4 linked regions of the Homo sapiens genome follow. The protein of the gene in region 2 interacts with the protein of the main gene of each other region in a biochemical or structural test. Each region holds a gene or a part of one and is shown on either strand. Other genes may lie near its edges. The genes, in order: POLI, POLH, RAD18 and RCHY1.

Region 1 (5,250 bases), on a different chromosome or scaffold from region 2:
ACTGGCCACAAAGAGTTGTATTTGTTGAGTAGGTTAGAAACATGTCAGATAATAGCTACAGGCACACAGCAGCAGCAGCGATATTTAAAAGATATCAGATATGTAAATTAGTCTGTTATTCTTGTGTTCTAGAAAATGAAAGACACTCATATGGAAGATTTTCCCAAAGACAAAGAAACAAACCGGGATTTCCTACCAAGTGGAAGAATTGAAAGTACAAGAACTAGGGAGTCTCCACTAGATACCACAAATTTTTCTAAAGAAAAAGACATTAATGAATTCCCACTCTGTTCACTTCCTGAAGGTGTTGACCAAGAAGTCTTCAAGCAGCTTCCAGTAGATATTCAAGAAGAAATCCTTTCTGGAAAATCTAGGGAAAAATTTCAAGGGAAAGGAAGTGTGAGTTGTCCATTACATGCCTCTAGAGGAGTATTATCTTTCTTTTCTAAAAAACAAATGCAAGATATTCCCATAAATCCTAGAGATCATTTATCCAGTAGCAAACAGGTATCCTCTGTATCTCCTTGTGAACCGGGAACATCAGGCTTTAATAGCAGTAGTTCTTCTTACATGTCTAGCCAAAAGGATTATTCATATTATTTAGATAATAGATTAAAAGATGAACGAATAAGTCAAGGACCTAAAGAACCTCAAGGATTCCACTTTACAAATTCAAACCCTGCTGTGTCTGCTTTTCATTCATTTCCAAACTTGCAGAGTGAGCAACTTTTCTCCAGAAACCACACTACAGATAGCCATAAGCAAACAGTAGCAACAGACTCTCATGAAGGACTTACAGAAAATAGAGAGCCAGATTCTGTTGATGAGAAAATTACTTTCCCTTCTGACATTGATCCTCAAGTTTTCTATGAACTACCAGAAGCAGTACAAAAGGAACTGCTGGCAGAGTGGAAGAGAGCAGGATCAGATTTCCACATTGGACATAAATAAGCATATTCAGCAAAAAGGTCTGAAAAGCAAGGGAATACCATTATTTTCGGATTAGCGGTTTATTAAGCTCTTCTATATTAAACACTAATAGATATTCAATAACGGAGTAAACTGTTCCAGATAAAGCAAGAATAGTTGCAAGAAGTAAATTCTGGCACAAAGCGTAAAAATATAACAGAAGAAATAATGTAAAATACTATCTTTTATGTCTAAAGCCATTTTATATTACTTTTCAATAAAAAGAATATCATGGTCAACATAGAATATTTTTCATGAATTGGTGGGGAGATGTATATGTTTATATATAAAAAATAGCCAAATCGTTGCAATGATATGGTAAAGGACACATTTTTTTTTTTTTTTTCCTGTGAAATGTGGAATATCTCAAATTCAGCCTCTTAGGCTGAATAGCAAATCCTACTGCCAACTAACCTATTAAAAATATAGATAGTTTTGACTAAAGTACTACATTACATTTAGTATGTTGACTTTTAAAATACCAAAGCAATTTATATTCAATTAATGCTTCTTCATACACCAAGAATCTACCACAATACACAGCACACAAAGGCCGTTCAATAAACATTGAATGAATGAATGGTTTGGCTAGGGCCAGGGTGGGGAGTTAAAGTGAGAGGAGGGTATATGTTATAGAGAACAGTGGTAGAAGGAACTCTCCGTGCAAGTAAATTAAGGGAAAGATGGACACCAGAAAGGCAAGGTGATGGGCCTATAAGCATACTGGATAATGGAAGAAGTCCATTTCTTTCTAGCTAGTTTGAAGGGCCTAAAAGCACTGAGATGTTTTTGTATCTTCCCTACATTTGGAGATGATATTAGGTTGTCATAACAACCACAAATATAGACCATTACTAAATTGGTGGATGTCCTCTTTCTCCCATTGTTATTGCCTTCCTCTTTTGCCTGCTAAACTAAAAATTGGATATAAGATTGAGAATGTATTATATAATTTGCAAGACATAGAGGATGTTTATAGAATATACTAAAGTATCCCTCAGCACCAATATGGGAGTATCCTGGTCTCAAGTTTATAATTTTTGCACATATAATCTAAAGAAGAGACTTTAAAAATAAAGTACACAAATATGAACCAAAGAGTAGCTTAAAAATACTTTCTTCTAGGTCTGAAATTTTCTTTTCTTTCTTTTTTTGTTTTGGAGACAGAGTCTCACTCTGTCGCCCAGGGTGGAGTACAGTGGCGCAATCCCAGCTCACTACAACCTCCGCCTCCCAGGTTCAAGCAATTCTCCTGCCTCAGCCTCCTGAGTAGCTGGGATTACACGCATGCCCTACCACACCCAGCAAATTTTTGTATTTTTAGTAGAGATGACATTTCACCATATTGGCCAGGCTGGTCTCGAACTCCTGGTCTCAGGTGATCCTCCACCTTGGCCTCCCAAAGTGCTGGGATTACAGGTGTGAGCCATTGCTCCTGGCCCCAGCTCTGAAATTTTAACTTAGTTTTGGATTCCTTGGAATTTGAAAATATGCTAACACGAAGGATTGTAAATAGGTAGTTTGAGGTTATCAGGAACAGTAACTTGAAGCAAGAACATCAGAAATTGTTCACCATGCAAATATTTAGTACTCTGAATCAAGGAACATAGTATTTTTTACATGAGTATTCCAGTAAGGTAATTAAACTTATGAAAAGGGTATATAACTTTTTGTAAATCATTAAAACATTTTATAGTCCTTGTAATGATTTCAGGACCTTGGACAGCTAGAAGGGGCTTAAGAAAAAATGGCTAAGAAAACAAAGTAAATGGTTTTGGCCAGCTTAAAAAGAGAAAGCAAAATAGTTAAAAATACATTTCATAGATTGAGAATGTACGGGCTATGTCACAGTTACGCTACTTATTTTGTGGTTTTAAGTTAGTCTCAACATCTTTGGGCCTCAGAATCAACTTTTTTATGGGATCTTTTTTCTCTGTTTTTAAGATTATCTCTTTTTTCTTTGGTGCTTTGCAGGTTTACTGTATTATTTGGAAGTGCGAATTTATTTTTATTCTTAGTATATACTGGCTTCTTCCTGTATCTTTTAATTCATGTTCTGTAAAATTCTCAACCACTAGCTCTTCAAATATTTCTTCTCTATTCTAGGACTGTATACAAATGATAGACTTTCTTACTGTATCCTTCATGTCTCTTAATTTCTCATATTTTTCATCCTCTTGTTTCTCTTTACTGCATTTTGGGTAATTTCATCAGCTCTATCTTTCTGTTTACTAGTTCATTTTTCAGTAGCATCTCACCTGCTATTTAAAACAATGATGGTTTTAATTTCAATAAATATATTTTTCATTTGATTCTTTTTAACTTCCCGTTTACTCATTACAGTCCCTTGTAAGTCTGTTTCTAATTTTTAAAAGTCAAATATATGATATTTTTGATAATTTCAATATTTTAAGTCTTTATAAGTCTACATTTAAGGTTATTATTGCATATCATTGTGACTTATTTCCTTGAGTATGTGTTAATCTGCGAGAAGACAGAGGGCCTAAATTGTGTATGTTTTCCTTCAGTATGATTTGAGTTCGTTGCTTCTCTGGGTGAGGTGGTACAAACTCCTTGGCATACTCTATTCACCTTTGTGGATCCTGATTGAATGCCTTGTCTTAAGTGTAAGCTCCCTGACCCTTACTACTAGCCGAAGGTTTTGTCTCTGCAGGTCAATTCCAAACTAACAGGCAGATGCTGTTAGCTATCTGCCTCCAGGGATAAACCCCATCTTTCAAGCTTGCTTCTTGCTTGATGCTTTCTGCTGCTTTCTTGCTTTTGTTTCAGCTCGAGTTTGTTGTTGTTTTTTTTTTTTCCTGTTTCTGTCTTGAATGTAGAGGGTATTTTTATTTTTATTTTTTCTGTTTCTCTCTTGAGTGTATAGTGTAGAGGGGGTTTCTGTCTTGAGTGTAGGCCTGGAGATTTCCCTTATATGGTACAAACCAGCAATGAATTAAGAGGTCTCTTTTCTCCAAGATCTAGTGTTTTGTACTAGGAGAACTCTAAAAAGTATCTATTCCACTGTAGTGCCAAAGTACAAATTTATTTGGATTTATTTTTTGCCATCTTATTTTTTAATATATTTCTTTTTCTATGTTGTGCTTCTTTCCCACCTTTATCTCTCCTCCTATCTTTTGGGATCAGTTGGGTTTTCTATTTAATCATATATTTTCCCTTTACTGATTTGGAATGTGAATGTTACAAGTCCTTTTGATTATCCTTAAACATCTAAAAATGCTACCCTCTTTCCAAACAACACAAAGGTATTGAAATAACATTAATTCTAATTAAATTCCACAAGTTCTTTATTAAATCTCCAAATTGGATATTATTAGTATTTTATATAGTCAATGTTTATTTTTTTGATGGGACATGGTGGGGGCTTACCTTTTTTCTTGTGTGTCAGATGTTCCTTCTAGGTAGAATTCTTTATACCTTCTGAAATTATGTCCTTAGAGCTGTAGATTTAGAACTGACATCTCTTGAGCTGTTCTAAGATAATATCTTTTACTTTGGAGATACGCAGTTTTTATTATATGTCTAGCTATAGATTTATCATGGATTTAGGTTCATTATGAATCTGCAGATTTGTGTCTTCCATCAAATCTGGATTGTTTTCAATATTAAAAAAACTTCTATTTTAAAATCTGTATATAGAAAGGTACATAAACATAAATGAACATGTTAATGAGTAATTGTAACAACTATGTAACTGTCCAAGTCAAGAAATAAAACATATCAAGTAATCAAGAAGTCCAGAGTTTTCTTTGGGGTTTCATTACGTAGGCATGATTTATTAAAACCTTTACTGTGTGCTTGAACTTAATCTCCAGTTTCCCTCCTCTGTCTGGACATCAGGCTGGCTCAAAGTCTCAACACCCTAATCATGGTTGTTTTTTTGAAGTGAGCTACCTCCATCCTAAATCATCTTTTTAGCATTAGCTGTCTAGGGCCCACTGTGGGTCACATCATTAGCATACAGTGTCAGGGCTTACCATGAATAATGAAGGCACTTCTGTTGTTTAGGAAATTCCATGGGTTTTAGGAGCTTGGTGTCCAGGAACCCTGAACGAAGACCAGACCAATTATACTACAGAATCTTTTTTTTTTTTTTTTTTTTGAGATGGGGTCTCGCTCTGTCGCCCAGGTTGGAGTGCAAAGGTGTGATCTTGACTCACTGCAACCTCCATCTCCTGGGTTCAAGTGATTCTCCTGCCTCAGCCTCGAGTAGCTGGGATTACAGGCACCTACCACCACACCCAGCTAATTTTTGTATTT
Region 2 (7,032 bases):
CTCACTGCAACATCCGCCTCTCCAGTTCAAGTGATTCTGCTGCCTTAGCCTCCCGAGTAGCTGGGATTATAGGCACGCGCCACCACGCCCAGCTAATTTTTGTATTTTTAGTAGAGATAGGGTTTCACCATGTTGGCCAGGGTGGTCTCAATCTCATGACCTTGTGATCTTCCTGCCTCAGCATCCAAAAGTGCTGGGATTACAGGCGTGAGCCACTGCGCCCGGCCAGGACTGACACCTTTTTATGGCTGAATAATATTCTATTGTATTAATATATACCATATTTTGCTTATCTACTTATTAGTGAATGGACATTTGAGTATATTTCCACTTTTGGCTATTATGAATAATGTTGATATGAACATTCATCTACAAGTTTTTGTGTAGACACCTGTTTTCTTTCCAGCATATACCTTGGAGTATAATTTCTGGGTCATATGTTAACTCTATGTTTAGCATTTTGAGGAATCGCCAGACTGTTTTCCACAGTGGCTACACCATTTCACATCCTTACCATCAATGTAAGAGGGTTCCAATTTTTCCACATCCTTGTTACTGACTTTTTAAATTTTAGCCATTCTAGTGGGTGTGAAATGGTATCTCATTATGGTTTGGCTTACATTCTCTGATAATCTTTTCATGTGCTTGTTGGACATTTGTATATCTTTGGGGAAATGTTTGTTGAAATCCTGTTCCTGGGCCGGGCGTGGTGGCTCAAATTTTTGGAGGCCGAGGTGGGCAGATCACCTGAGGTCAGGAGTTCGAGGGTAGCCTGGCCAACATGGCGAAACCCTGTCTCTACTAAAAATACAAAAATTAGCTGGGCGTGGTGGCGGGCACCTGTAATCCCAGCTACGCAGGAGGCTGAGGCAAGAGAATCGCTTGAACCTGGAGGTGGAGGTTGCAGTGAGCCGAGATTGCGCCATTGCACTCCAGCATGAGCAACAAGAGCAAAGCTCCACCTCAAAAATAAAAAAGAAAAAACAAAAATCCTCTCCCCTTTTTTAAATTGGGTTGTCTCTTTATTATTGAGTTTTAACATGTCCCTTGTCAGATACGTGATTTGCAAATATTTTCTCCCATTCTGTGGGTTTTCTTCTCACTTTCCTAATGGTATTGTTTGATGCATCCTCTTCTTTTGAAATGTCTTGGAGTTCTACAAGTCAACTGTACATGTCAAGAATAGTCCAAAACTGCTCGTTGCTCCTTTTTAGCTGGAATGGGTGGTAAATGTTTGTTCCTTTGGTAGGCATCATAAAGAGGGATTTGATCCAGTTGCGTTATCGCCCTTTTCCGCTTTTGCCCACTAGGTGGCACTTGTTTCTCATCTCTCTCTAAGTCCCTGGGGCCTTTCTTTCCACTTTTTTTTCCTAAGAGACAGGGTCTTGGCTGTCATCCGTGCTGGAGCACAGTAATACAACCTTAGCTCACTGCAGCCTTGTAGCCTCAACCTCCTGGGCTCAAGTAATCCTCCTGCCTTAGCCTCCCACAGTGCTGGGAGTACAGGCATGAGCCACTGTGCCTAGCCTTTTCTTCCCTCTTTGTATCCAGTGGGGATCCCTGAAAATCTATCTTTTAAGCTTCAAAGGACTTTATGCCAAAAATAATTCAGGACATAGCAGATCCTATCACTTCACTGTTTAAAACATTCCAGTGGTTTCCCTTCACACTTAAGGCATATTAAGGAATTTTTTAAAAGTAATTCTATAAAGCCAAATATAATCTAATTTCTTGCTACTTCTCTGACCCCATCTCTTATCTTCCCCTCACTTATTCTAGTCTCCACTTCACTGGCCTCCTTCCCTTTATCTAACACACTAAGTAAGCTCTTACTTTAGCACTTCCCGTTTCTTTGCCCTGGAGACTCTTTGTTCATATATTCTTAATATTTGCTTCCTTGATTTATTCAAATCTCTGTGCATGTATTACATTCTCCAGGAGGTCCTCCCTAGTTACCCTATCACAGCAGCAGCCTCCATCACTCTCTGCCTTATTCTGCTTTTCTTCATAGCACTCATCTCTGTGGTCATTTCTGTTACATGTCTATTTTTTATTATCTATAGTTCCTACTACAACATAGGATCCATGAGGACCTGGACTTTATTTTGTTCTCTCCTGCATCTCTAGGCACTGTCTAGGCATGCAGTTATAGTTGAATAATTTTGGTCAACAAGGACTCCTTTATAATTGCTAATTTGTATTCCCTCAAGATATATAAATCCATACAAATGTATTTTTTATCCAAAAAGTAGTTCCTGCTCTTAGCTTGTTTGCCTTAGGGATACTTCTTCTCACTAGCATCTTTTGATAGGGGTCCCTTATGTAGAATTTTCACCTTCTTATATTTCTGCCTCTTGACCATTATGTCTCAGTTTGCTGAGATTACAGCATTCAGATGCTTCAGACTTCACTGAAAAGTGAGTCATGATCTTGCTCTCTCAAGGCAGGCTCACTATATGGTATCTTCTCTAGATAAGCTGTAAAAAGGTGTTGGTAGAAACTTCTGGAATTGGTGGCGAATGTTTGTTTACCATAAGAGCCCCAGGGCAGAAAAAAAGATATGACTTGAAGCCTAGTTCCACTTTGCTTTCAGACAATTACTTACCTGAAACCTTCCTTCAGTCACAAAATAGTATCTAGTATTGTAGATATTTGTTATAATTGTCCTGCTTAGACACCATGAAAAACATTTAGGGGAGTCCCATTTTCATTTGTGCTGTCCTGTTCCCATCATCTGTCAAAACATCCTAGGATACTCCGATGTTCCATAATCCAAATTATGTCTTCTTCAGTTACTTTTTACACCCAGAAATAGCATTAACACTTTTTTGTGGAACCATGTAATCAGATTTCTATTCAGAAAATGCATTCTGTTGCATATATATAGATTCTTTTTTTTTTTTTTTTTTTTTTTGAGACAGAGTCTTGCTCTGTCATCCAGGCTGGAGTGCAGTGGCACCATCTTGGCTCACTGCAACCTCTGCCTCCCAGGTTCAAGCAATTCTCCTGTCTCAGCCTCCCGAGTAGCTGGGATTACAGGTGCCTGCCACCACGACTGGCTAGTTTTTTTGTATTTTTCAGTAGAGATGGGATTTCGCCATGTTTGCCAGGCTAGTCTCGAACTCCTGACTTCAGGTGATCCACCTGTCTCAGCCTCCCAAGGTGCTGGGATTACAGGCGTGAGCCACCATGCCTGGCCTCTTTCTCTTTTTTATATTTTATCTTTACTCTTTGCAGAACTCAGTTTACCTTTATTCTTGACTTTTAAACTACTGTTTCCAAACCATTGTCACCCTGGTTCTTTTAATTTCCTCTCCTGCAGTTCAGTACCTAGAATTCAGATGCTCCTCATAACTTTATTTCTGGTCTCCATCCTTTCCACCCACAGAATGACAGGGTAGCCACCCAGCTGGTTGTGAGCATTCGTGTACAAGGAGACAAACGCCTCAGCAGCCTGCGCCGCTGCTGTGCCCTTACCCGCTATGATGCTCACAAGATGAGCCATGATGCATTTACTGTCATCAAGAACTGTAATACTTCTGGAATCCAGACAGAATGGTGAGTTCTTTTCTAGCTCATCTTCTCAGAATAGATGATGATTCTTAGCTCTGTCTTAGCTCTACAAGACATAATTTTTATCATAAAGTTCCTCATTGTGTCTAATCACTCAAATTTTCACATGAGCTGAATTTCAGAAGATGAAATATGCTTTTATGTACAGATTAGTCCTTCAATGAGGTAAAGGGTAAATGTCATTTTAAAGTTATTATTAAAGTATCGGCCGGGCGCAGTGGCTCACGCCTGTAATCCCAGCACTTTGGGAGGCCAAGGTGGGTGAATCACCTGAGGTCTGTCTCAGTTCTACAAGTAGTAGGAATCTCTGTCTTAGCTCTACAAGTAGTAGGAATCTGAGCTCTTCCATCTGGGATAGACTCTGACTCAGACTACCAGTACCTGTTACTCTGGGAGAAAATACAGTACCAACCTCAGAAACAAGACAGCTCAGCACAGATCCTTTGCCGACAGCTGATACATTCCAGTTCCCAGGAGGTTAGACCCTTACTCTGTATTGGCTTGGTCAGGGAAATGACCAGTTGCACTTGGAGAACAGAGCTCAAATTTCAAGGATACATTTGGGAACTTCAAACTACTTGATTGTTCTATCTTAAAAGCATATTTCTTGATTATAAAGGTGACCTGTGTTCACTGATATTCTCTATCTGACATCCCAACTCAGTTACAAGCTCCACTGGTATTATACCAAATGTCATATTCATTAGTAAACTTCACTTCTGTTGGTCATGAAATATAAGCCTCTTTTTGGAGCATCTTCATTTTCTGTCCAGATATTAATGATTTTCAGGATTGGAATCCTTTAATTGCATATTTAATAAAGCCCTTACTTTTTTTAAAGTATTCCAAATTCACAATAGAAATATAATTATGAGAGAGAGGTAAGTCAGTTGCTCACTTACAGATGTATATTGAATATTATACAAAATAAAATCAAAGTTTAGTTAATCGCTTATTACTTATCTAAATATATTGGCAGTATAATTATGTGTACAGACCTATAATATGGTGGAGTCTCCTAGTCTTTGTTCATAGGGCCGGGCGCGGTGGCTCACGGCTGTAATCCCAGCACTTTCGGAGGCCGAGGCAGGCAGATCACCTGAGGTCAGGAGTTCAAGAGCACCCCAGCCAACATGGTGAAACCCTGTCTCTACTAAAAATACAAAAATTAGCCAGGCATGGTGGTGGATGCCTATAATCCCAGCTACTTGGGAGGCTGAGGCAGGAGAATTGCTTGAACCTGGGAGGTGGAGGTTGCGGTGAGCCGAGATTGCGCCATTGCACTCCAGCCTGGGCAACAAGAGCGAAATTCCGTCTCCAACAACAACAACAACAAATAAATAAATAAATAAATAAAGTCTTTGTTCTGAGAATAATTTACTTAATACTTCCTGATATATTTATTTTCAAATATTGAAGTTTTACAAAACCAAATAACAACCGTGGTACTAATGTACACATGAAACCTTATTTGAAAAGTTATAAATTGACAAACTATAACAAATACTACTCACCAACGGTGTGAAACTCCGTGATGCACAGGGAAGCATCAAAATTATCTGATTATAAGACTGTCCCAAAGCATGAAACCTGAGGATATTGGGATACTTTTTTTTTTTTTTTTTGAGACGGAATCTCGCTCTTGTTGTCTAGGCTGGAGTGCAGTGACGCAATCTCGGCTCACTGCAACCTCTGCCTCCCGGGTTCAAGCGATTCTCCTGCCTCAGCCTCCTGAGTAGCTGGGATTACAGGTGCCCGCCACCACGCCCGGCTAAATTTTGTACTTTTAGTAGAGACAGGGTTTCTCCATGTTGGCCAGGCTGGTCTCAAATTCCTGACCTCAGGTGTTTCACCCACCTCGGCCTCCCAAAGTGCTGGGATTACAGGCGTGAGCCACTGCACCCGGCCAATAGTGTAATAATAACTTTAAAATGACATTTACCCTTTACCTCATTGAAGGACTAATCTGTACATAAAAGCATATTTCATCTTCTGAAATTCAGCTTATGTGAAAATTTGAGTGATTAGACACAATGAGGAACTTTATGACAAAAATTTCTGATTTTTTTTTTTTTTTTTTTGAGAGGGAGTCTGGCTCTGTCACCCAGGCTGGAGTGCAGTGGCGCAATCTCCGCTCACTGCAACCTCTGCCTCCCGGGTTCAAGCAATTCTTCTGCCTCAGCCTCCCAAGTAGCTGGGTTACAGGCGTGTGTCACCACACCCAGCTAATTTTTGTATTTTAGTAGAGATGGGGTTTCACCATGTTGGTCAGGCTGGTCTCATACTCCTGACCTCATGACCCACCCGCCTTAGCCTCCCAAAGTGCTGGGATTACAGGTGTGAGCCACCGCTCCCGGCTATCACAAGAATTTCTTAAAATGTTTCTGAAATTGGGACTAGTAACGAAAAGCAGTTGTGGAATTTCATTCTCTAGAAATTCCAGAGTGGTAAGTCAGTCAGGGTTAGGTAGTGCCCTGTTTAAAAACAGGATAATGGCTAAGAGGATTTTTTCAAGTCTTTCTAGTCTAAATATTCTAAAGCTTTTTGTTGTCCTGAATAAAATTTCTTGCCCCAACCCTGAATTACAGCAGCTTTCCAGTGGTACCTTATAAAAAACAATAATCTCTAGCTGTCGGGAGGTGAGTGGTTGCTAAATTAGTGGTTCTCAAGACATAACATCAGCATCACCTAGGAAATTAAATTCTCTGTCATCCCAGGTCTGTTAATCTCTGATACACATTAACGTTTGAGAACCACTGCAGTAAAGAATAATTTCTGTGGCAGAACCAGAATGCTAGTCATCTATGGATTAAATCTGTCCTATGGTGAAATAAAACAGATACAATTCATGGAATTAGCAATAGGTCACTATTTTAATCTTCTAAATTGCTAATCATCTTATTTCTTTACTTTCTGTATAGGTCTCCTCCTCTCACAATGCTTTTCCTCTGTGCTACAAAATTTTCTGCCTCTGCCCCTTCATCTTCTACAGACATCACCAGCTTCTTGAGCAGTGACCCAAGTTCTCTGCCAAAGGTGCCAGTTACCAGCTCAGAAGCTAAGACCCAGGGAAGTGGCCCAGCGGTGACAGCCACTAAGAAAGCAACCACGTCTCTGGAATCATTCTTCCAAAAAGCTGCAGAAAGGCAGAAAGTTAAAGAAGCTTCGCTTTCATCTCTTACTGCTCCCACTCAGGCTCCCATGAGCAATTCACCATCCAAGCCCTCATTACCTTTTCAAACCAGTCAAAGTACAGGAACTGAGCCCTTCTTTAAGCAGAAAAGTCTGCTTCTAAAGCAGAAACAGCTTAATAATTCTTCAGTTTCTTCCCCCCAACAAAACCCATGGTCCAACTGTAAAGCATTACCAAACTCTTTACCAACAGAGTATCCAGGGTGTGTCCCTGTTTGTGAAGGGGTGTCGAAGCTAGAAGAATCCTCTAAAGCAACTCCTGCAGAG
Region 3 (6,930 bases), on a different chromosome or scaffold from region 2:
TGACATTGACACTGATGAACTCCAATGTGATTCTTAAAACCCATTAAGACCCAGAGAAAAAAATTCCTTTAGAATACTTTGGTGTCCCGTTTTGAAAACCTGGCCATATATTTTATTAAAAGCTAAGGTCCCAATAATTCCATTTCCGAGAATGTAATCTAAGGAAGTAATCATATATATGGAAAAAACTATATGCACCATGATGCCTTCTAAATTATTTGTAATTGGAAAAAGCTGGAAGTAACGTAAGTGTCCAAGCGTAGAATGTCTGTGCAAAATGGCACACGATCCAGATGGATTGTTATACAATCATTAAATAGTATTGTTAATGCACTGTGGAATCTTTCTGTGACAAATGAAAGCACTGTGTGTGTGTATGTGTATGTGTGTGTGTGTGAGTGTGTGTGTGTGTGTTTGTGTGTTTATGGAGGTGATCCTGGATAGGTGATATGAAATTCTGACTTGTCCAGCTTCTCTTGATACTATTGGGAAGTTGGCAGACACACAGGCACTTACTAGCATAAGCTGACTTCCATAACTTTATTCTAATATTTTGTATTTTGGAATCAAAGGAGTCAGAAGATGCATGCATCAGTTTCTGGGTGTCCATTTGTGCTGCCAGAAGAAAATACCACAGTCTGGGTAACTTATAGACAATAGAAATTTATTTCTCACAGGTATGGAGGCTGGTAAGTCCAAGATCAAGGCACTGGCAGATTCCGTGTCTGGTGAGGACTGCTCTCTGCTTCCAAGATGGTGTGTTGTTGCTGAGTCCTCCAGAGGGAACGAAGACTGTGTCCTCATGTGGCGGAAGGGATGGAAGGAAACAAAACCACTCCCTCAAGCCCTTTTAGAAGGACCGTGACCCCATCTATAAGAGCTGTGCCCTCACGACTTAATCACATCCTAAAGTTCCCACCTCTTGTTAAGTTTCAACACATGAATTTTGGGGAAGACAGGGATAAGGAAAGAACATGGTGATTAATGCTGTCCCCCTGGACTGATTTTCAAGCTTTCTATGGCAAGAGTTTATAGGCAAAAACAAAATCCGTCCATTGCATGTTTGATAGTGCCATGAACCTCTCTTTTGTTGCACTCATCACAGTTGTACATTAATCTATATAATTACTTAATGCTCATCTTCCCTTCTGATCTACAAGCTCCATCAGGGCAGGAACTGTCTTTGTTTTGCACATTACTTGACATATAGTCCTAATAGTTGAAGGAAGGAAGGACAGGAAGAGTGGAAAGGAAAGAAAGGTAAGGGGAAAGAGAAAAAAAAGGGGGTGGGGAAGAGAAAAGAGAAAGAGTGAAAGGGGAAGAGAGAGGAAGCAAATTTTTGCACAGGACGCTGTGGTCCGGGTGATAGTACACTAGCAAACCAGGAAAGCACACTCCCATTTCCACTTGGAACACAGCAAGGCCAAGAGACTGAAATGGACAGGAAGGCAGGGCTGCCCTAGCACTTGGCAGGTTTGCATCTTGGGGCTATATCGGGGATGGCGTCCTAGGCAAGGTAGGACTTTCCAGCAGGGCCAGCCGCAGTGCACGTGACAGAGCAGCGGTGAGGAGGGCAGATGCTGGTAGAAGTCTGTCGGGGGGAGCAGCAACATATGCAAGCATGGACTTGTATCTGTATTCTGAATATCTGAACCTGGGGATACCCAGAAATACACAGAAGGAATGGAGAAATGCCCCCTTTAAGGTCTCAATGCAGGTAGGGAGTATAAAGTCAGTATCATGGGTGTTAATGTAAATACTTGTTTACAGCCTCAGATAGTTGTTCTTAAGGATGTCTAAAAACAGACTAAAAACCAAAAAAAAATTACTGAAATGGTAAAAAATGTAATGGTTGTGGTTTTCCCTCTTATGTTCATACTTTCATAATATGTACATAACAGACAGAAGTGTTTCTCATTTGAATAATTGCTACTTTCTTTTATCGGATGCTAAGAAGTTTGAAATCCATTGTTTTTGGGTTTTTTTCCAGAAACAGTTCTAGCCTTCTCTATGTTGTCTATCCCTGTTGACACATCAGTCTTTACCATGTAATTTTGTTTTTAAAGGCATACCTCCCTCTATTATATACATGGTCTTATGTGTATGAATTCTTTTTTCAACTAGACCAGTAATCCTCAACATGAGGTCGAAAAAGAAAGACGAGAGTAGAGGATGAAAGGACGGCCTGGCATACTAGGCCATCTAAAGTGCATCCAGCAGCTCACCTGCACCCCCACAAACCATAAGCATCACTGCCATTCTGAGCTGATGTTGATGGGAGATGTTATAACTTTGAGGGGAGTGAGGAGGTAGAAAGAGTTAATAACTCTGAATTACTGTAAGTTTGGTGAGAAACTGTATTTTCACTAAAAGGTGAATTTTAGAACCAGAAGTTTATCAGTTTCAATTTTGGATCTATTACTTACTCTAAGTTCCTTAATCTTTGTCAGATGGATATGAACATACATTTCTTTCAATGTATGAATATTAAACATATGCTAAGTGCTAACAGATAGTGCTCAATAAATGCTCTTTAGACCTTACTTTTCAGGTAGACTTGGGAGTTCCTTTACATTACAGGTTTCTCAGTCTTGGCACAACTGACATGTTAGACTGGATAATTCTTTACTGTGGAGTGTTGTAGTCTAAAGCGTGCCCCTTAACCCCTACCACTAAATATGTTGGAAGTCTTAACTGCCGGTATCTCAGAATGTGACAGTATTTAGAGATAGGGCCCTCTATCTAAAAAAGAGGTAACTGAAGTAAAATGAGGCCATACGCATGGGCCCTGATCCAATGACTGCTGTCCCTACAAGAAATCGGGACACCAGTCCTGCACAGTCATGTGCACACAGAGAAAAGACCATGCAAGGACACCATGAGTGGAAGCCAAGGAGAGAGGCCGAAGAAGAAACCCTACTGATCTTGGACTTCCAGCCTCCAGAATTCTGAGAATACACATTTCTGTTGTGTAAGCTTCCCCGTCTGCAGTATCTTGTGACGGCAGCCCTGGCAAACTAATCCATGAGGGTTGGGTGTTTAGCCTCATCCCTGGCCTCCACCCATTGATACTGGTAGTACCCCTCACCACCCTCCACCTCCAAAAGTGTCTCCACACATTGCCAGCTGTCTCCTGGGGGGCAAAATCTTTCTGCCCACCCCACTGGGAACCATTGTTCTAGATGATCTTTGGCCACCTTTGTATTCCCAGTGTCAGCACAGTGACAGACATAGATAACCAAATATTTGCTGAATGAACTCATGTGCCTACTTTCCCAATCTTGGGTCTCACCGCTCCCTCACAAACTCCTTTTGCTGCAATTAAAGTAATAATTACTTCCAGTTTAATTTATAGACTATATAATTTGTCATGAAACAAACAGTTTTCATTTTGACATAATTTCTGACAACTCAGTGACATAAATATATCCATGTGAGCTCCTATTTTGTTTGACATGCTCACTTACCTCACATCAGTTCTGCCGATAGATTTGGTAAGTGGTGCTTTTAGTTTCCTTAATGCACCCCTCAGGATTTCATGCAAATGAAATTATTATGACAAATTTTTCTATAGCCATTTCTAACACAGGGAACTCATAAAGAAATCAAATGTCTGCACTTCACTGTGAAAACACTAAACTCTCAGCCATAATGAGACTCCACACATTATCAGAAACCCCAAGGCATACCAAAAAGACAAGGTCAACGGAGACAGTCTTTGGAAGGGGAGGTCATAAATGTTGAATCTGGCAAATCATAAATTTCTTGTCTTAACATTGCCGCATTTACTATCATCTCATTTGAAAGCTGATGTGTTTGGGTTGGGTGATGGCAGAGGGGTGGGAGTTGGGGGATGCTGGCTCTGAAATGCCAGAGAGGCATTAAGAACTCTGGAAGCATCTGGCTACTGGTAGACATTTTACACAGATAGCAATTTCTGACCAATCCATTTCAATGATTTCTAACCCATACTCAACTATCCAGAGGATACTGTTTTAAGAACATTATTGTAAACTGATACTCTCTATTCATTTACAAAATTCATTCATTGCATACTTTTTGTTTAATAGCTTGGATTCAGTGTTACAGATTTGATTGACCCAAGTGAAAAAATACTGACACTAATCATTTTTAAGTGCTATTTCAGAAGAATATGCGCAATGTTTCTAAGTTATTGTGACTTTGTGACTGTCGTAGCTTTAAATTATAATACTAATATCCTACTCTGAGAAATGTGTAAGACACAGGTCTAACAAACAACTACATTAACCTCGGGCAACAACCATCATGGAGCTGCTGTAACACAGGCATGGTGGTGGCGTGCATCGGTACTTACACACACCAAGGATGTGAACTGACATCCCGCCTTTCCAAAAACAAACATTTAACTCAACTGTTTCTTGCAATAAAGAAGTTGAAAGAATCCTTTTGTGAGGCTGGATTCTCCATGGAAGAGAAGGAGAATGGCCTAAGGACATTCTGAAATTTAATTATCAAACCAAACCAAACCAAACCAAATCCCTGTGCCAAAGTGCCAAAGAGTCTACCTCCTCTGCAAAGCTGGTACCTGTGTGAAATGTCAGTATTTTTAGAGAGAGATGTTTTAGAGGCAGGAGGCAACTGACCAAGTAAGGATATTTTGTAACATTTTTCCCCTCTGGAAAAGCAGAAAAGAATGAATATCAGCTAACCGTAATATTTAGAATTTAGCATCTTTCCTTGGGCATTTATAAATAGAAAATCTATCTGTGGCAACCAAAAGTACGGTATTCTAATCAATGCATTTGAAAAGTCAGCAAAAGCCCACATTAATTCCTATTACGCTTGTTTCTTGGTTCAATCTCAGCACTTTCAGCGGCTCTTGTGCGGCGATTCTGTCTTGGACTTATTTCTGTGTCTTGAAGATCGTTTCTGAAGACAGAAAAAGGAAATGACATCTTGGAAAGTAATGATTATTGTACAGCAGTTTCTAGTTTACAAGTGTTTTCACACATATTATTTCATTAAAACCTCGAAATAATCCTCTATTCTGTTGATGAATTCATAATTGTTATTATTAGTATTTCCACTTTATGAATTAGTGAGTTAGCAAAGATCACAGATAGTAAATGAGCTCTGAACCCCTTTTTCTGAATTAAAATTTAGGAGTTTTATGCTTCTGTTTAGCATGTAGAGGGCTGGGAAAAAACGGCAAACAAAAAGCTGCTCCCATCCTAACAAGAAAAAGCCAGACAGTCTAACAAAATCTTAACTCTGTTTGATCCTTCAGAGACCTGAGGTTTTAAAGGAACTAAGAAAGTAAAATTCCAAAGAAAAATATGCCCCTCCAAAGATGGGCCACACTTCTCTCACTTTTGGCAGAGTGTTGGAGAACGAGGTGGCTGCCATACAAACAGGTAAGAAGAATCAGCTAAGATTTTCCTAATTTCTTAAATACAGGCTAGTATTGCAGGCCCCTGACACAAGGAGAGTCTGCACACACTTGCCAGCTCTTTTCCACGAGCCTCCGTCAGGTGCTCACAAGAAAGACTGGGAGCAGGACAGGTGAATGGAGAGGGGCCACTTCAGTGGCTACGGGGGACAGGAAGAAGTCAAGTCCTGCCTGCTCTCCTGAATGCTTCTCTCCCATGAAGCATAAGCTTTTCAGTTGCTGAGGGAAACACAGGAAACTCCCCCTGGGGCTCTAGCAAAGACCTATGGCCTCTGGGGAAGGAACAGAGGTGAAATCAGTCTGCCTCAAGGGGAGGCATATGACCTCATTTGCAGGAACGCAGGCAAAGATTCACTGCTGCAGGGGGAATGGTAGAAACTAAAACCTCTACCTTACAGGAGGGGCAGTAAATCATCTCCAGCTGATGACCTTACACTGACACCACGCAGAGGTTTGGTCAAGTAGCCAGATACCATGGGAGGAGGTGGAAGTGCTGAGAAAGGCCCACCCCTGAGACTCAGGCACACAGGGCCTACCTAAGACTCAGGCTAGACTGAGATAACAGTGAACCCCGGCTGTTTCCCACCATCAGCCTAGCAACAAGCAATAAGCAGGAGCAGGAAATGGCTGAGGGAGAGACACAGACATGGTGAAGATATGCCCCTATTTGGTGCAGGAAAGCAAGCATGGCTGAAAGGAAAATGGGAGCAAAATCAATGAGAAAAACCCTCTGGCAATCCAGCCCCAACACTAAGCAGAAGTCAAAGCAGCCACCTGCTAGAGTAACTTGAAGTGGATGCACTGAAGGTCACATTAGTCACTAGGAAACTCCAATCCAGGTCAACTCTGAATTACCCAGCTCAACTCCCCACACTAATGACCCAGTAGAAGGATGTGCATTTCTAGGCACAAACACTATCGACCTCAGTCCCTATGGTCCTTCACTGCATGGCCCGCATTCAAAAAGTATGATACACAATGAAGCAAGGGAAAAACCCATTTCGAGATGGAAATTCCTTCAATAGGCTTTAAGTGCAATACACAAAGTTGATAAAAAGACTTAGTGAACTTGAAGGTATGTCAATAAAAACCAGATTAAGATACAAAGAGAAAAAGGAGTATGTGAGGGGGTGCACATAGAATAGAGCAGCCAAGAGCTGTGGGACAATAAAAATGGCATAACATGTGTATAACTGTAATACCTGGAAGAAAGGAGAGAAAGAACTATGGATAATAAATATGTAAATATATATGGCTGTGGATTTTCTAAAAACGTTGAAACACTTCAAATCAAGATCAAAGTTGGTCAAAGAACCCCAGTCATGAGAAATACCAAAAATAAACAACCAACAAACAAGATCTCTCCAGGATTTGTTGTTGTTGCTGTTTGCTATTATTGTTTAGTGACTTTTCTAAACCAATCCTATAAATATGTATTCTTTGTTGTATATGGCAACTAAAAGTGTCTGCTTGATTAGCTTTGTAGTCCACTAATGATT
Region 4 (7,417 bases), on a different chromosome or scaffold from region 2:
ATTCTCTGGAAGATGTAGGATTCTGTATTTTAAACAAACTCACTGGATAATCCTTACGTAGACTAAAGTTTGAAAGCTACGGTGTAGGAAAATATTTAATGTCATGGAGAGTAGTAGTTAATAGTAGACTCTGAAGTCAAAATGCCTGGGATCAAATCTAGCCTCTGCCATTTAATAGAGGTGTGACCCTGGGAAGGGCATTCTAGTTCTCTGGGCCTCAGTTTTCTCAAGTGATAAAATGAAAATAATAATAGTATTTACCTGACATGGTTCTTTCAAGGACTGAGTTAATAGACATGTAAAGTACTTGGAATAGTGCCTGGCACATAGTACACACTATTTTAAAAAACCCAATAAAGCAAATAAAGGAAAAGGTATACAGTATAATTCTATTTCCAGAAGATTATCTATATAAGTATAGATGCATATTTACGGATAATTACAAAGATACAGATCAAAGTGTTCACAGTATTATCTATGGATTATGTGATTATTTTATTTTTGCTCCTATAATCTTATTTTCTAAAATGAAAAATTTATTTGTTATAAGAAAATCAATAGTTTTTGAAAGTTGGTAACTTATGGTTTATTTGATTTATTATGCCCATATTTCTTAAGGTCCCCTTAACATTACGGCTAGATGACACCTTGGTGGTAGGAAAAAAAACAAAAGCCCTAGACCAACTTTCCCAAGATACTGTATATTTATTAGCACCGAAGAAAGTGAGGCATTCTCTACCTGATCACTCAGGTTCTACAATATGACCAACTGCAGAAAGTGACCAGGACTGCATGGGAGCGGGTACGCTTTTGGCTACTTCTCTTGTTTTTAGTTGCCAGGAAGGAGATCCCTTTCAATGGAGGCTCTCCCTGAATTTTCCACATTGGAATCAATCAATCAATGTCTATAGGTTCTAGAAATTCACTTTCAGGTATACAAAGTCAAGAGAGATACTGAGGGTGAGGCAGCCAACCCATGGGAATATTACCCAGAAAAAACATGGAATTCAATTAGCGTTTACTTATTTGACTGTTCTTTCTTTTCCTGACCTTTTCTTCTCCTGTTCTTAGATCTCTTTTTTGGTTTTCTTCCTTTTGATCCTACCTAGACTTTATGCTTGCATGTATGTGGCTCTTACAAGTACTTTAGTCCTGTTAGTGGTTCTACTCCTGACTTCTGCCCCAGTGTTAAGGACTGCCAACTTGGAACATCAGTTCAACCTTCTTACGTTAACTTCCATTTTTAGACAAAAATCTTCAGTTATGCTAATTCCTAAAGTCAGCCCACTTCATCAAACCTTAGTAATATACAAATATTTATGAGTGGTTACTGGTAAAATACTCCTACTACACATTACAAAAGTTGAAGATGCAGTCTACAAATTTAAAACTTCAAGAACAGACTTCAAATGAATAAGCAAACAATAAAAATGTTAGCAAGAGTGGTGAAGGTTCTTCAATAGTATCATAAAAAGTGAGCAATGGCCAGGCACGGTGGCTCATGCCTGTAATCCCAGCACTTTGGGACGCCGAGGAGGGTGGATCACGAGGTCAGGAGTTCAAGACCAGCCTGGCCAAGATGGTGAAACGCCATCTCTCCTAAAAATACAAAAATTAGCCAGGTGTGGTGGCAGGTGCCTGTAATCCCAGCTTCTCGGGAGGCTGAGGCAGAGAATTGCTTAAACCCTGGAGGCAGAGATTGCAGTGAGCTGAGATCGCGCCACTGCACTCCAGCCTTGGTGACAGAGCGAGACTCTATCTCAAAAAAAAAAAAAAAAAAAAGTGAGCAATGATGGTAAACAGTATCTCATAAACAAACCTGTAGGTGATATGGAGAATCAAAGATAGAAGGTATGACTCCAGGTTTCAGTTTAATATTTGGAGCACTTCTGTCAAAATCTGTCTTCTTAAAGTGCCTCGAACACAACACATCTCCTTTTTTAGGCTCCCAAATGCCGGCTGCATTCACATCAAGTCTTTTCATTGCTAATACCCATTTCCTTTTGATGTTTTCATCTGTGGGGAATCTAGAAAAAAAATACAAAAAATATTTTAAAATCAAATACTATTGCTATATAATTGAATTAAAGCTGCCTTATACAACTGTGACTAAATTGATTCGTTAACTAGTTTATTAGTCTTGAGAATTATAATATTTAGGAAACCATAATTCATGCTTTTGTTACTTTCCGTTTTAATATTCAGATTTTCTGCCAATCATGCTGCAGATATATGGCCCTCATTTCATTTTTTCTCACATTATAAGGAAGAAAAGTTTCAATGGATATTTAGCATCTTATAGTAAGATCCACAATTGAAGGTATTTATTCATCTATAGATGATAAAAGAATTATCACTTGGGCCTTTTCCTATCTGAAATGATATCCAGAATTTATCCTCGATAAAAAGGGCCCCTTGTAATTCCATTCTTCTGTCAGCACCAGAAAATTGCTTAGTACAGCATTTAATACATAGCAGGTCTACAGATGCTTAGTGAATGAATGCAGAGAATAGCTGCAGTGTGGAGTTCTGGAGATCAGAGCTATTTTGAGAGATATGAAGGCCTAATAGCCATATCTTACTCAATTTTCAAGCTGGTTCAAATTTTTCTAAAATAAGGTAGGATATATATGCTCAGTTTTGATTTATTATATCTAACAAAATAGCTAGGAGATCTTTCTCTAACACATAGGACAGTGCCTGGCACAAAAGCAGCAAAATAAACCTTTAACAAGTGAACAACTATTAAATCTTATTACTCCTTCACTTACTCCTTCATGGCTGTCAAGAGAATGGCTAAAATATGAAACTAAAATCATTTTGATTTATTTGCAACACAGCTAAAGATCCCTTGGTCTTAACTTGTAATTTGTATTTTTTCTCTATAACCTATGCTTGATCTACTTCTAAATAGAGAGGGCAATATATTCGAGCAAAGCTCCTTCATTCAGATTGTAAACTACATGTAAACAACATTGAATTTCTTTGGCGGTGTGATAAAATACAAAGTAATAATATTAGCAAAAGTTAGCCTTATGGTATTTTTTGTAAACCAGTCTCTGATATCTTAAAGTCTCTGATATCTTAAAACTTTTAAACTAAATTATAAACATGTAAAGGTATCACATTGTCACTTCAAATTTAACAAAAAGGTTATTTAAAAAGGACTCGGGAACTAAAGTTCAAAATTGAAGACTTAAGTAGAACTGTCTTTTGCTTTTTATAACATGGCCAAAGTATTTGGCTTAACTACAGCAAAATCTTACACGTGAAATGTCAGTCCTTTTAACTTCGAATTTGGCAAGCAGCGAGAAGCACATCCAATGGCGGAGCAGCATTTCACCATTTTAGCAACTCATAACAAAACTGAAAGAAAATTAGAATGTTAAGAGTTAGTAACCGGAAAGCTGAAGGGGAATATTTTCCCTTTCCCGGTGTTTTAGGAAACACAAAATCAGGATAGAAAGCTAAAGACAAATATCTTCTTCTAACACCTGCAGCTTTGCTTACATCATTTTCCAGGGCCTTGACTCTTTAATAAGGAGAAACATATTTAGCTGTGTACCCCGAGTATGATTTCAATTTTGTTGGCTTGTACATTTTCCTTCCACCTTCTAACAGGTACCATGTTCTTTGTGCCACAAAGCCTTTTGCACACTAACTCCTACCCATCTTTCAGCCCTCGGCTTGCATCGCTTCCCCAGGGAAGCCTTCCCTCACTGACACTCAGATTGTCAGAGCTGCTCTAATATTAGCTCTCACAGGACACACACTTCTTCCTAGCACTTCTCCAGGTTGTAATCTTACATTTATTGCAGTGATTGCTCTTATTAATGTCTTCCTCCTCCACCAGTCTTGTTAGTTCCATGAGGTCATGGTGGAGTGTGTCTATTTTTCCTTACTTTTTGTCCTCACGGTTTAGCTGGTGACTGGCAATAGTGAATGTCAGTACATATTTTGAAAGAACAGCAAGTAAACGGGAAAGGGAGGAAGCAAGAAGCACTTCGAGGTGCCAGCGAGCACCCTGGCGTCCAAGAGCAGCGCGCGGGACCCGCTGAGCCCAGGGCCCGGGCCGAGCTCCGCCCCTTTCTCCAGGCTCCCCGCCACCGGAGGGAGAGAGGGAGGACCCGTCACAGGTAACGATGCGCCCAGTGAGCGTCCTTTCCTCTGGGGCCAACCAGCGTCTCCGCGCCGCTGCCGCCAACCTCGCGCCGAACTACGCCCTGAGATTTGGGCGGGTAGCGATTGGGGGAAAACAGGCAACCTAAGAGTTATTACCGTTAGCAGCGAAGACTGCGACTAACGTCAACGACGGAGACTGCGTCTGCCTTCGCTTCCGCCTCGTAGCCCCGGGAACCGGAAATCCGTCTGCCCCGGGTCACGTGCTTAGGAGCCATATTGTCGCTAGTGGCCGCTGGGGCTGGGAGGGGTGTGCTAGAGAGGCGCAGCTTCTCTGGGCGTGGTTTTTATCCTGGGGGAAGGATCGGTGGAATGTGAGGGGAGGTGGAGGAGATGGCGGCGACGGCCCGGGAAGATGGCGCCAGCGGTCAAGAGCGAGGTCAGCGGGGCTGCGAGCACTATGACAGAGGATGTCTCCTAAAGGTGACGCCTTCTATGGACTCTTCCCTGACAAGCTTCCGTCAGGTTGGGCTGGGGCGGGCTGGGCAGGTGGTTAGGCTTGGATTTAAGTTTGAGGTTAACCTGATTTTCAGGATACCTTTTCCACCTGGAACTGGGTTCTTCTTGAGGAGAACGTTTTTGGCAAGGCGATAAGCCCCACCTTTCCTACCTGCTTCGTACCTTTAAAGCAAAACCCTTCTTGGGAAGTGATTAGGCTTGCACAGTGGTCTCTGCCAGTGGGCTTATTCGTCTTTTGCTGCCGAAGTAGACTGAGGCAGCCCCGGGCCTGTACTGGGGTTTTCCGTTCAGGTGTGTGATGAAATAATGGAAGTGGAGATAATGGAAATAAGCAAGTGGAGAACCCGAATACGATTTCAGCTCCTGTGGTAAAGTTTTATAGCCTGCCAGCTTCATGTTAAAGGCAGTGCACATGTTCAGACGTAGGAGAAAACGTGTGTCCCAAAAAAGAAGACAATCATGTAATTGCCATTAAATAGGAAATTATGCATAGGAAAGTGCCTAATAAGCATGTATTGTTACTCTGAGAAAACTTCTTAATCTGTATTTTTTTTTAAATTGGCACGTATTCAATTGAAGTTTCCTGATTTTCCTTGCAAGAAACAGTACAAAAATTTTGCTTAGAAAACTTGAGCTTTGGAACCTCAACCGCCCTATCCCCAAATCTTAGCTCTCCTCTTTAATAACTGATTTTAGCTAGCTCCTCTCTACCCCGTATGTAAAATGGAGATGATCGCGCCTGTTTCATAAAAGTGTATGAGGATTATATACTAAAGGGCGTGTATAGTGTTTAACAGGGCGCATTCCCTGAAGTAAATGAGTAGTAAATATATACCACCATGACTGTTACTATCATCGTCAATCTGAGTATTATTATTTTTTGTTCTTTCACTTCACAAGTCAGCCTTGCTGGTCACTGCCTCATTATTAGAAGCAAGTTCAAGTCTCAGGCCTGTACGTGCATCCTAAACTCTTTTCTATAGGTCATGGCTTGACGAACATTGCTCCACTGAACTGGATGAAGCTCCTTAAAAATGTTGGTCATCCACCAAGTGTTGTGTAAGGAAATTGAATGCTATCCTTATGATTCAATTTCTACTGAGATGTATTATTATTCTTTCAAACTTGAGGTCTAAAACGGAATTTAACATCTTGGTGCCCCCCATAAACCACACAATTAGATCTGTGTATCATAGCACTAAGATACTTCGCCCTAGGTGTCAAACAGTTTTTGCCTTCCCCCGCCCCCCCCCCCCCCTTAAATACCAGAGGCCAAGTGAAGTATTTCAAGGAGGATGTGGTCAGCTGGGTCAAATGCAGCTGTTTGAGTAAGATAACTGAGAATTGCCCTTTGGATTTGGCAAGGAAGAGGTCACTGGTGATCTTGACAAGAGGAGTTTTAGTGGAGAGATCAGGATTAGAGTGAATTTAGGAAAGAATGGGAGGAGTGGAATTGAAAATAGCACTTATAGGGTATTCTTGGGGTTTAGCTGTAAAGGGGAGCAAAAAAAAGATGTGGTTGCTGGGAGATCTGGCACCATATTTTTTCCTCTTTAAGAGAGGAAGTATTACAGCATGTTTGTATATTCTAGGAAATGATACAATAGAGTGAGAACGTTTTATAATGCAGGAGAGAGTGAGAAAACTGTAAGGGCATTGTCCCTGAGTAGCCAAAGGGGATGAAATCCAGTGCACAAGTGAAGGAGTTGGCCTTAGAAACATAGACTGTCAGTTCTTCCTAAGGGAAGGCAGAGAATGAGGTATATTTGCAAGTAAGTTAATAGAGATAATAGGAGGATGTTCTTTTCAGGCCTGTCAGCAGGAAGTATGTTTACTGTTTTTATAGTGAAATAAGGTCATCAGCAGAGTGTTAAGGAGGAAGAGTTGTTAGAGTTTTAAAGCCAGAGGAGAAGAAGTGAAATGATCATCTAAATCTTAGGTCTTAGACTCTGGAAGAATGAGAGAATTGACCAGGGAAACGTGGTAGTAAGTGTCCACCTCATATGAACCAGCAAGGACGGTGATGCTTTTTCTCTAGCCATATTCACCTGCTTCTGATAGAAGTCAAATAGGATTTAACTAGGGTTGGGATTGTTATCTATGAGTGTAGAGGAACTGAGAAGGGAACTAGGGTGTTGCAAGGGGAGACTTGGAGTAAGTTAGGGAGGAGGTAATGGTTAGAGAATTTCATGCTTGGAATTGAGATGCAAAGAGGGTGCCGTTGTTCTGTAGCATTGGTTTTCAAAGTGTGGTGAATGGAACCCTGGGGATTCCTGAAGTCCTTTCAGGGGCTCTGCAAGGCCAAAACTACTTTCTATGAACACTAAGATATTTGTTTTTTTTTTTTTTCAGTCTGTTGACACACGCATTGATGGTGGAAAAGCACTGTTTAGTATTGCTAGTATCTTAGCTTGAATCAAGACAGTGGCACTGAACTATACTACACCTATAGTTTTTTTAAAAAGCCAGCTTCACTTAAAAATGTTGATAAAGCAGTAAAATCGTTAATTTTAACCAAATCTCAACCCTTGAATATATCTTTTAATATGCTGTTCAATGACATGGGAAGTTTTGATCAAACACTTCTGCAAACTGAAATTAGAGGGTTGTCTTGAGGAAAAGCTCTTGTGCAAATTGGATTGTAAAGTGAACTAGTTGCTTTTTTTCATGGAACAGCATTTTTTACTTGAAAAAATTGTAGTCATTCACATTTGGGTAGTTGGCAGACATTTTCTCAAAAAGGAGAAAAGTGAGACTCACTACAAATGAAAATGACAGT

Evidence for each region.
Region 1: the proteins of POLH (region 2) and POLI interact in far-western blotting, tested with the Homo sapiens proteins (2 studies listed by BioGRID).
Region 3: the proteins of POLH (region 2) and RAD18 form a complex in vitro, tested with the Homo sapiens proteins (one study listed by BioGRID).
Region 4: the proteins of POLH (region 2) and RCHY1 form a complex in vitro, tested with the Homo sapiens proteins (one study listed by BioGRID).

Annotation. Positions count from the first base shown.
Region 1 is NC_000018.10:54,293,517-54,298,766, forward strand, and holds the end of POLI (DNA polymerase iota isoform a (long)), read left to right. Parts: intron 1-132; coding exon 133-951; 3' UTR 952-4,718; downstream 4,719-5,250. UniProt on the Homo sapiens protein: Error-prone DNA polymerase specifically involved in DNA repair. Plays an important role in translesion synthesis, where the normal high-fidelity DNA polymerases cannot proceed and DNA synthesis stalls. Favors Hoogsteen base-pairing in the active site.
Region 2 is NC_000006.12:43,607,166-43,614,197, forward strand, and holds part of POLH (DNA polymerase eta), read left to right. Parts: intron 1-3,388; coding exon 3,389-3,558; intron 3,559-6,494; coding exon 6,495-7,032. UniProt on the Homo sapiens protein: DNA polymerase specifically involved in the DNA repair by translesion synthesis (TLS). Due to low processivity on both damaged and normal DNA, cooperates with the heterotetrameric (REV3L, REV7, POLD2 and POLD3) POLZ complex for complete bypass of DNA lesions.
Region 3 is NC_000003.12:8,876,549-8,883,478, forward strand, and holds the end of RAD18 (E3 ubiquitin-protein ligase RAD18), read right to left. Parts: intron 4,912-6,930; coding exon 4,809-4,911; 3' UTR 527-4,808; downstream 1-526. UniProt on the Homo sapiens protein: E3 ubiquitin-protein ligase involved in postreplication repair of UV-damaged DNA. Postreplication repair functions in gap-filling of a daughter strand on replication of damaged DNA.
Region 4 is NC_000004.12:75,511,382-75,518,798, reverse strand, and holds the start of RCHY1 (RING finger and CHY zinc finger domain-containing protein 1), read left to right. Parts: upstream 1-4,395; 5' UTR 4,396-4,512; coding exon 4,513-4,602; exon of another isoform or gene 4,603-4,644; intron 4,645-4,800; exon of another isoform or gene 4,801-4,891; intron 4,892-7,417. Other genes in the region: THAP6 (THAP domain-containing protein 6), read right to left, coding at 1,820-2,027, 3,267-3,346. UniProt on the Homo sapiens protein: E3 ubiquitin-protein ligase that mediates ubiquitination of target proteins, including p53/TP53, TP73, HDAC1 and CDKN1B. Mediates ubiquitination and degradation of p53/TP53; preferentially acts on tetrameric p53/TP53.